Homo sapiens: one gene and its partner. The protein of the gene in region 2 purifies or fractionates together with the protein of the main gene of each other region. This does not show direct contact. Each region holds a gene or a part of one and is shown on either strand. Other genes may lie near its edges.

Evidence for each region.
Region 1: the proteins of RSRC1 (region 2) and PPP2R3A purify together in Homo sapiens (co-immunoprecipitation; one large-scale study listed by IntAct). This does not show direct contact.

The regions. Positions count from the first base shown.
Region 1 is NC_000003.12:135,972,113-135,975,937, forward strand, and holds part of PPP2R3A (serine/threonine-protein phosphatase 2A regulatory subunit B'' subunit alpha), read left to right. Parts: intron 1-3,825. UniProt on the Homo sapiens protein: The B regulatory subunit might modulate substrate selectivity and catalytic activity, and might also direct the localization of the catalytic enzyme to a particular subcellular compartment.
Region 2 is NC_000003.12:158,200,379-158,204,203, reverse strand, and holds part of RSRC1 (serine/Arginine-related protein 53), read right to left. Parts: intron 1,133-3,825; coding exon 959-1,132; intron 1-958. UniProt on the Homo sapiens protein: Has a role in alternative splicing and transcription regulation. Involved in both constitutive and alternative pre-mRNA splicing. May have a role in the recognition of the 3' splice site during the second step of splicing.

The DNA of each region.
Region 1 (3,825 bases), about 22 Mb from region 2:
AAGCAGTCACTCGCCATTCCCCTTTACCCCTACCGTCTGGCACCCGCCAATTTGCTTTCTGTCTATATGGATTTGCCTGTTCTGAAGATTTCATATAAATGGAATCATACAATATGTAACCTTTTGTGCCTGGCTTCTTTCATTCAGCACAATGTATACGAGGTTCACTCAGGTTGTAGCATGTATCAGTACTTCATTCTTTCTTTGGCTGAATAATACTCCATTGTATGGATATACTACGTTTTGTTTATCAGTTGACATTTAGATTGTTTACACCTTTTGGCTCTTATAAATAGTATTGCTAAGAGCATTCTTCTACAAGTTTTTGTTTAAATACCTGTTTTCAATTCTTTTGTGCATGTATCTAGGAATAGAATTGCTGGATTATGAAATAATTCTATGTTTAAAAAGTTTTTGAGGAACTCCCAGACTGTTTTCCACAGATGCTGCACACTTTTACATTTTTTCCAGCAATTTTTGAGAATTCTAGTTTCTCCACCTCCTCGCCAGCACTTTTGTTTTCTGGTTATAGCCATCCTAGTGGGTGTGAAGTGGTGCCTCATTGTGATTTTTATTTGTATTTCCCTAATGACTACTGACGTTGAGCATCTTTTCATGTGTTGGCCATTTGTGTATCTTTGGAGAAATGTCTGTTCAAGTCTTTTATCAATTTTTTAATTGGATTGTCTTTTGGTTGTTGAGTTTAAGAGTTCTTTACATATGTAAATATGGATACAAATCAGGTTTATGATTTGCAAATATTTCCTGTCTTACTGTGTGCTGTTTTTTCACTTTCTTGTTAGTGTTCTTTGCACAGAAGTTTTTAATTCGTGTGAAGTTGAATTTGTTTTTTCTTTGATTGTGTATGCTTTTGGCATTATATCTGACAATCTATCACCAAATCCAAGGTCCTGCCAGTTTACTCCTGTGTTTTCTTCTGGCAATATATAGTTTTAGTTCTTAACATTTAGCTATTTGGTGGATTTTGAGTTAATTATTGTATGTGAGGTAAGGATTCAACTTCATTCTTTTGCATGTGAATATCCAGTTATCCCAGCATAATTTGTTGAAAGAGCTGTGTGATTTATGCAAGTCTGAGACTCTTATTTGTAAAATGAAAGTGATAAAAACACTTGCCTCACAAAGTTGTTGTAAGATTAAATAGGAGAGGATATATGTATTACCACTTTGAAAAGTATATATCATTAAACAAATACTCATGATTATTATTGGCATGCCACATAGAGCTTTCATTTGGTCAAGGCCGCATAGATTGATGTCCTTCAGGGACCACCACACATCTTCCCTCTTAGTGCATAGTGAATCACGACGTAACTAAAGGACTGTGATCCATGTTGTATCCCTAGGTCCAAAGTCACAGGGCCCCAGATGCAAGAGGTAGTTGGAGAGATTGCAGCTATCCAGAATTGAAAGTATATTTTCTTGTAGGGCATGTGTTTGTTGAATTCTGTTGCTATTCCTCATATTGAGGAATGTCTATTCTAGGTGTTTAAAGGCCCTAAAGAGTTTTCAGGCATAGTAGGAAATTAAAAGGCAGTTTCTTCTTATTGGACCAAGAATCCTCATGTTTCACTCTATCAGCTTTTAAACTTCCAGAACTAAGACTGTTTAAATGGCTAGTGATCTCACTTAGTTCAGTCAACAAATACTTACTAATTTATCACTATGTGCCAGGCACTGTTCTAGATACCGGAGATATAGTGCCTTTTAATATAAGACCAAACTCTCTTGACTTTGCATTCCCCTCTCAATTTGTTTTCTACAGTTATCTAACTCACTGACTCCAGTTCCTTTTCCACCAGTCTCTCTTGAGTCCACATTAATCAGGCCCCTTCCCCCACTGAAGCACTCTTGTCAAGCTCACCACTGACCTTCATGTTGCTAGCTCTAGTGAATCAGTTCTCAGTCTTCCTCTTACTTGACCTTTCAGCAGCATTTTACACAGTTGATTATTCCTCTTTCTTTGAAACGCGTCCTTCATTTAGCTTTGCTGCATTCTCTGCATTTCCCTCTCACCTTATTGGAGGTTTAGTCTTTTTGCTAGTTCCTCATGATCTTCCTGACGCCTAAAAGTTGGAGCATTACATGGCTCATTAATACTCCATTCTTCCTTATTGACTCTTATTTCCTTGGCATTTCAGTCAGTCTCATGACTTTAAATACCATCTATACACCAACAACTACATGCTGACTACCAAATGTATATCTCCAAGTTAGGAAGGAAATAACTGCAGTAACGTCTTTTCCTTGCTTATGTCCTTCTCTGACGGCCTATTCCCAACTCAGCAGCCGGAGGAATCTTGTTAAAAGTAAGTTATCCACTCAGAGGCTTTACACTTTCCTACAAGGCCCCTACATAATCTGAACTCCTCTTTGTCTTTCTGACCTCATCTGTTACTGCTCTTCCCTGTGCTTGCTTTGTCCCAGTCAAAAAGGGGACTTTTTTCTTCTTCCAACAAGCCAGGTATGTTCCTTCCACAGGACCTTTGTTTCTCCTAGTAAAGCTTCCTCCCTCGTTCTCTGTCTCCCTTCCCTTTCAAACTCTGCTTCTCAGCACTTTGGGGTAAAAGGGAGGGGTATCCTCCCACCCCAACCCCCTAGACTGAGCACTAAGGCTATCCCCTTCCTCTTGTTTGTTTATTCATCTTACACTTTCATTTGAACAGAGTTCCTCCAGTTGAAAAAGCAGCTTGAAAACTGCTTCTCTGTGAGATTAGAAATAAAAAGCAGAGATTAGTGGTTGTGAATGGAAATGTCATTAAGGGCTTAGGAATCCTAGCAAGGGCCACTTATCCCTTCCATTTTGTAGATCGTAGGCATATTTCCTATTTTACAGCCTTGGGGATTGGGCCCCAGAATACTGCTGTTGTGAGTACTGATGTGCTCCTACCAATGCCAAGTCTTCCATCAAGCACTGTGGCCCAGCTGTTAGCATTTTGTCTTCTCTCAACATGATACATCTTGGCAGTCTTGGTATTCTTCTAGTAGAAGGTTGAGACCCCTTTCCCATGGTGGGCCCTCAATGAGTGGAGGCTCACTGGGTGCTGGCAGCAGTATTGAGATCCAAGTATTAAAGGCAATTGAGGGTTCTGTGTAATGAAGAGTGTGTTGATTCTACTGAGAAATGCCCCAGGCCTTAAAAGGGCAAACAGGCCACATCTAGTGACAGTCTATCTAGATAGCAAGTTTAGACACTTCATCAGGGGCAGTGTTTCTCAGCCTTTGTCTGCAAACCTACAGGCCTTTATGTGGGCCCTCTGGTGGGTTCATGTTATTAAAATCTGGAATGGTGTCTGTTCTGATTTGTTGTTTTAGAAGAAAAGGTATTATTTCTAAGAATTTTAGCCAAACAAGTATTATATAAATACAGTCTCTTTGCTTTCCTTTTCCTAGATGAGCTGATTTCCTAGATAATAAACAAGTAGATAAATTAATATAATTTCAGATAGTAGTAATAGTGCTATGAAGAAAATAAAGTGGAGGGCTTTTCCCCTGATGCTGAACACTTGGGTTGTTTCCAATTTTTCCGTGTTTTAAACATTACTGCAATGAACATCCTGGTACTTGGGCAAATGTGTGAATGTTTATATTGCATAGATTCTGAAAGGTGGAATTGCTGAGTCATATAATCATATAGCTAAAATTTTAATTAAAAACTGCCAAATTGGTCCCCAAGTTATCTGTACTAATATTACATATATAAGATATATATAATCTAATTAAAAGCACTGATAATATTGAATACGTTCTCTTTGTAAGAGTAATTAACATACTGTTAGGCTAAAAATCTTCATACCCTCACCA
Region 2 (3,825 bases):
GAGTTCTGTATCTTTTAATAAACTTAATAATTCTTTATAGAATCAAGATCTCAGGATACTATATGTGCAATCCTAGTAAACTCTTCAACATGGAAAACTAATACATTAAATATAAACACATTTATATTGAAGTATTACAATAAATATATTCACACAAGACACTGAAAGACTGACAAAAGAGGATAAATTCCAAGATTAGATTCTACTTCCTAGAATAAAAGACCCCAATTACAATTTTGAATAAAACAAACAAGATGCTGTAAATTTACTCTGTTAAAAAAGATTGTTTCATTTTAATGTTTTCTAATTTGACAAACACTTATGAGTGGATTTCAAGTTCTGTCTCTAAATGGACAAAACTAGAATCTCATTGTTTTAATAATATCAATTCTATGAAAAATAAAATCTGGACCTCATAAGCAGATACACTCACTCTTACAAACACACACATACCCTAATATTGCCCAAGCTCCCATTCTATACTAAAAAAGGCTTAAACAATAGTAAATCACATGGTCCCCTCCTTCTGTTTCAACTTTATACTTTTCCGCTAACAGCTTTACAATATGGTAATAGACATTTTTAATCACTAAGTAGTCTACAAATTTTAAGTTCATACTCATAACAAAGGAAACAGAGTATGAAACTTTCCTACAGAATTAGGCAAATTTTCCTCTACTTACATACTAAACTTTGATATTGCTGTTTATATTGATTCCAATATTGTTATATTATTATTAAATAAAAATAGAAATGAAAATGTACCACAGTAAAAATCTGAGGTAACTATTTTGATTTATCCTTTCTTCCTTCTCTACTGTATTCTCTCTTTTTATTCCATTTTCTTCTACTCTTATAGCAAATAAGCCACAAGAAAAACCTCAGAGAACAAAAATTTAGTTTGAACATCGCCATGGAATCACCAAGTCCTTACCAGATAAGATTTGCTCCAACTTACCCACGTTTGATGTTATGTAATTCCTTGTCCTTCCCTTTATCCTTCTCCTTTTCTCTTTTCTCTTTATCTCTGCCCTTACGTCGTTCTCTATCCCGAGACCGACTACGCGTTCTTCTGTGACTGGACCTTTCACTGCTACGACTATGAGAACGGAGACGAGGTCTTGACCTGGACCTACAGTAAGCAGATTTTGTTAAATAAACTTAGTGTATAATTTGTATCGTGAAAAGTAAATACTCTTTTAAATTATCTGAAAAAAACTACTTAGTTTTAGTTGTGGACTCAGAAATAAATAACCACGTGAAGCAAGCACCTGAATATGATTCTTTATAAGTAAATGCTCTCACTTAATATGAGGGAAATATATATGCTAACTTTATAGGAAATTATGATGCAGTTAAAAAGTGTTTGCCTTAAAGGTTCAAATCTAGTCTTAATTATTCACATCTCCTCAAATAATGTATCTAATTTAATCTACAAGAATAAGGCTTTCCTTTTCTCTACAATCTTTGCTTCCATTATCTATTCAACCTTATTTCTTATTTCTAATTGTTCCAATATAAATACTGATCCACTCCAATCCAGCTATTCTTTGTATTAAATGCATTACAGTAAAATACTAAGAAGTAATTATTTCAGGTTCTGGTTACAATATTGATAAAACATATATATATATATATATAATCTACCAGACTGACAACCCTACAGATAATTTTTAAAAACAACTCAGGTTGACCCTTGAACAACATGGGTTTCAACCGCATGGATCCACTTACATGTGGATTTTCTTCCATCTCTGCCACCACTGAGACAGCAAGGCAAACCCCACCTCTGCCTCTTCCTTCTGAGCCTATTCAACATGAAGATGAGGATGACAACCTTTATGATGACCCACTTCCACTTAGTGAATATTAAATATATTTTATATTCATGCTGGGTGCAGCAGCTGACGCCTGTAATCCCAGCACTTTGGGAGGCCAAGGCGGGCAGATCACTTGAGGTCAGGGGTCCGAGACCAGCCTGGCCAACATGGTGAAACTCCATCTCTACTAAAAATATAAAAATTAGCTGGGCGTGGTGGCACATGCCTGTAATCCCAGCTACTCAAGAAGCTGAAACAGGAGAATCACTTGAACCTCGGAGGTGGAGGTTGCAGTGAGCCCAGATTGCACCACTGCACTCCAGCCTGGGTGACAGAGAAAGACTCCATCTCAAAACAAACAAAACAGAATTGTTGCCATTTTAATCCAACCATGTGATTTCCCTCCTAAACAAAAAAATAAACAAAGGTACATTTTTCGAGGAAAATAACAGAGTATTCATAATATGATATTCACTTTGTCCAGGATAAAAACTCAAAATTCCTAGATATATGAAGAAACACAAAAAATGTGTTCTATTCTTAAAAGAAAAGACAGCATATGAAGAGCAACCCTGAGACTAAACTAGATGTTAAAATTAGCAGATAAGGATTTTAAAGCATTAAGTGTAACTAGGCTTATAATGAAGATAAAGTTAAGCAATCTCAATAGAAATACCAGAATACGAAAAAAAATTCTGTAATTGAAAAACACAATCTCTGAAATTAAAATTATGCTGGATGAGATTAAAAGCACACTGGTAATAACAGAGGAAAGAATCTGTATACATGCAAATAAATCAATCAAAATTACCCAATATGAAGAATTAAGAGGAAAAAAGACTGTAATAAGAAAGCCCCTCAGGGATCTGTGTGACAAGATTCAAATGCCTAACATGTTTATTTAAACCCAGAAATAGAGAAAACAGAGGATGAAGCAGAAAACATTTTTTCAGTGGTGAGTGAAAATTTTCCAAATTTAATAAAAGACAAATTTACAGATTCTATATTAGAAGTTCAACAAACCAAGTAAGATAAATATTAAGAAGACCATGATTAGAAATACTACAGTCAAATTGATAAAAACTAAAGGTAAAGAGAAATCTTGAAAGTATTCAGAGGAAAAAACAACACATTACATACAGGGGAACAATGATACAAATTATTGCTACTGACCTCTTATCAAAAATAATGGAAATCAGAAGACAGTGGAATGAAATTCTTAACATGGTGAAAGAAAACAAAAGGTCAACCTAGAATTTTATACCCAGCAAAAACATCCCTCAAAAATGAAAGTAAAATAAGGACATTTTTGAGACAAAGGAAAAGTAAACAAATATCAACAGAAGACTTGCATTACAATAAATACTAAAGAAAGTTCTTCAGGCTGAAAAGGAATGACAACAGATGAAAGCATGGCTCTTTAGGAGGAAATGAAGACTAATAGAAAGTAAATAAATGGGTAAGTATCAAAAACTGCTTATTTCCCTTAATTTATTTAAAACACATATAAGTGCTCAAAGTAAAAATAATAGCATTTTACTCTAAGGTTTATACTGAAAGTAGACATAATACAAATAACCTCTATAGAATAAAGCATGGGGCAGGTAAATGAACCTATACTGTTAAAAGGTTCCTATATTTCACATTAAATGGTGAAATAATAACTTTAAGTACACTGAAATGTTAAGAGCATATACTGTAATCCTTAGAGCAACTACTAAAAAAAGAAGAAAATAAGTATAGCTAAAAAGTCAATAGATTGCTTTTAAAGGAATTATTAAAAATACTCATTAATCCAAAAGGAAGCTGGAAAGGAAGCAAAAAGAAAAAAGAAGGGAAAGACATAAAATAATCATAAAATGATAGACTTAAATCTAATTATATCAATAAGTACATTAGATATTAATAAACAAAATATTGTAAAAAGGCAGTTTGTCAAATTAATAAAAAGCAATACTGTATGCCATCTAAAACAACAACTACATGCTATCTACAAAATATGTAC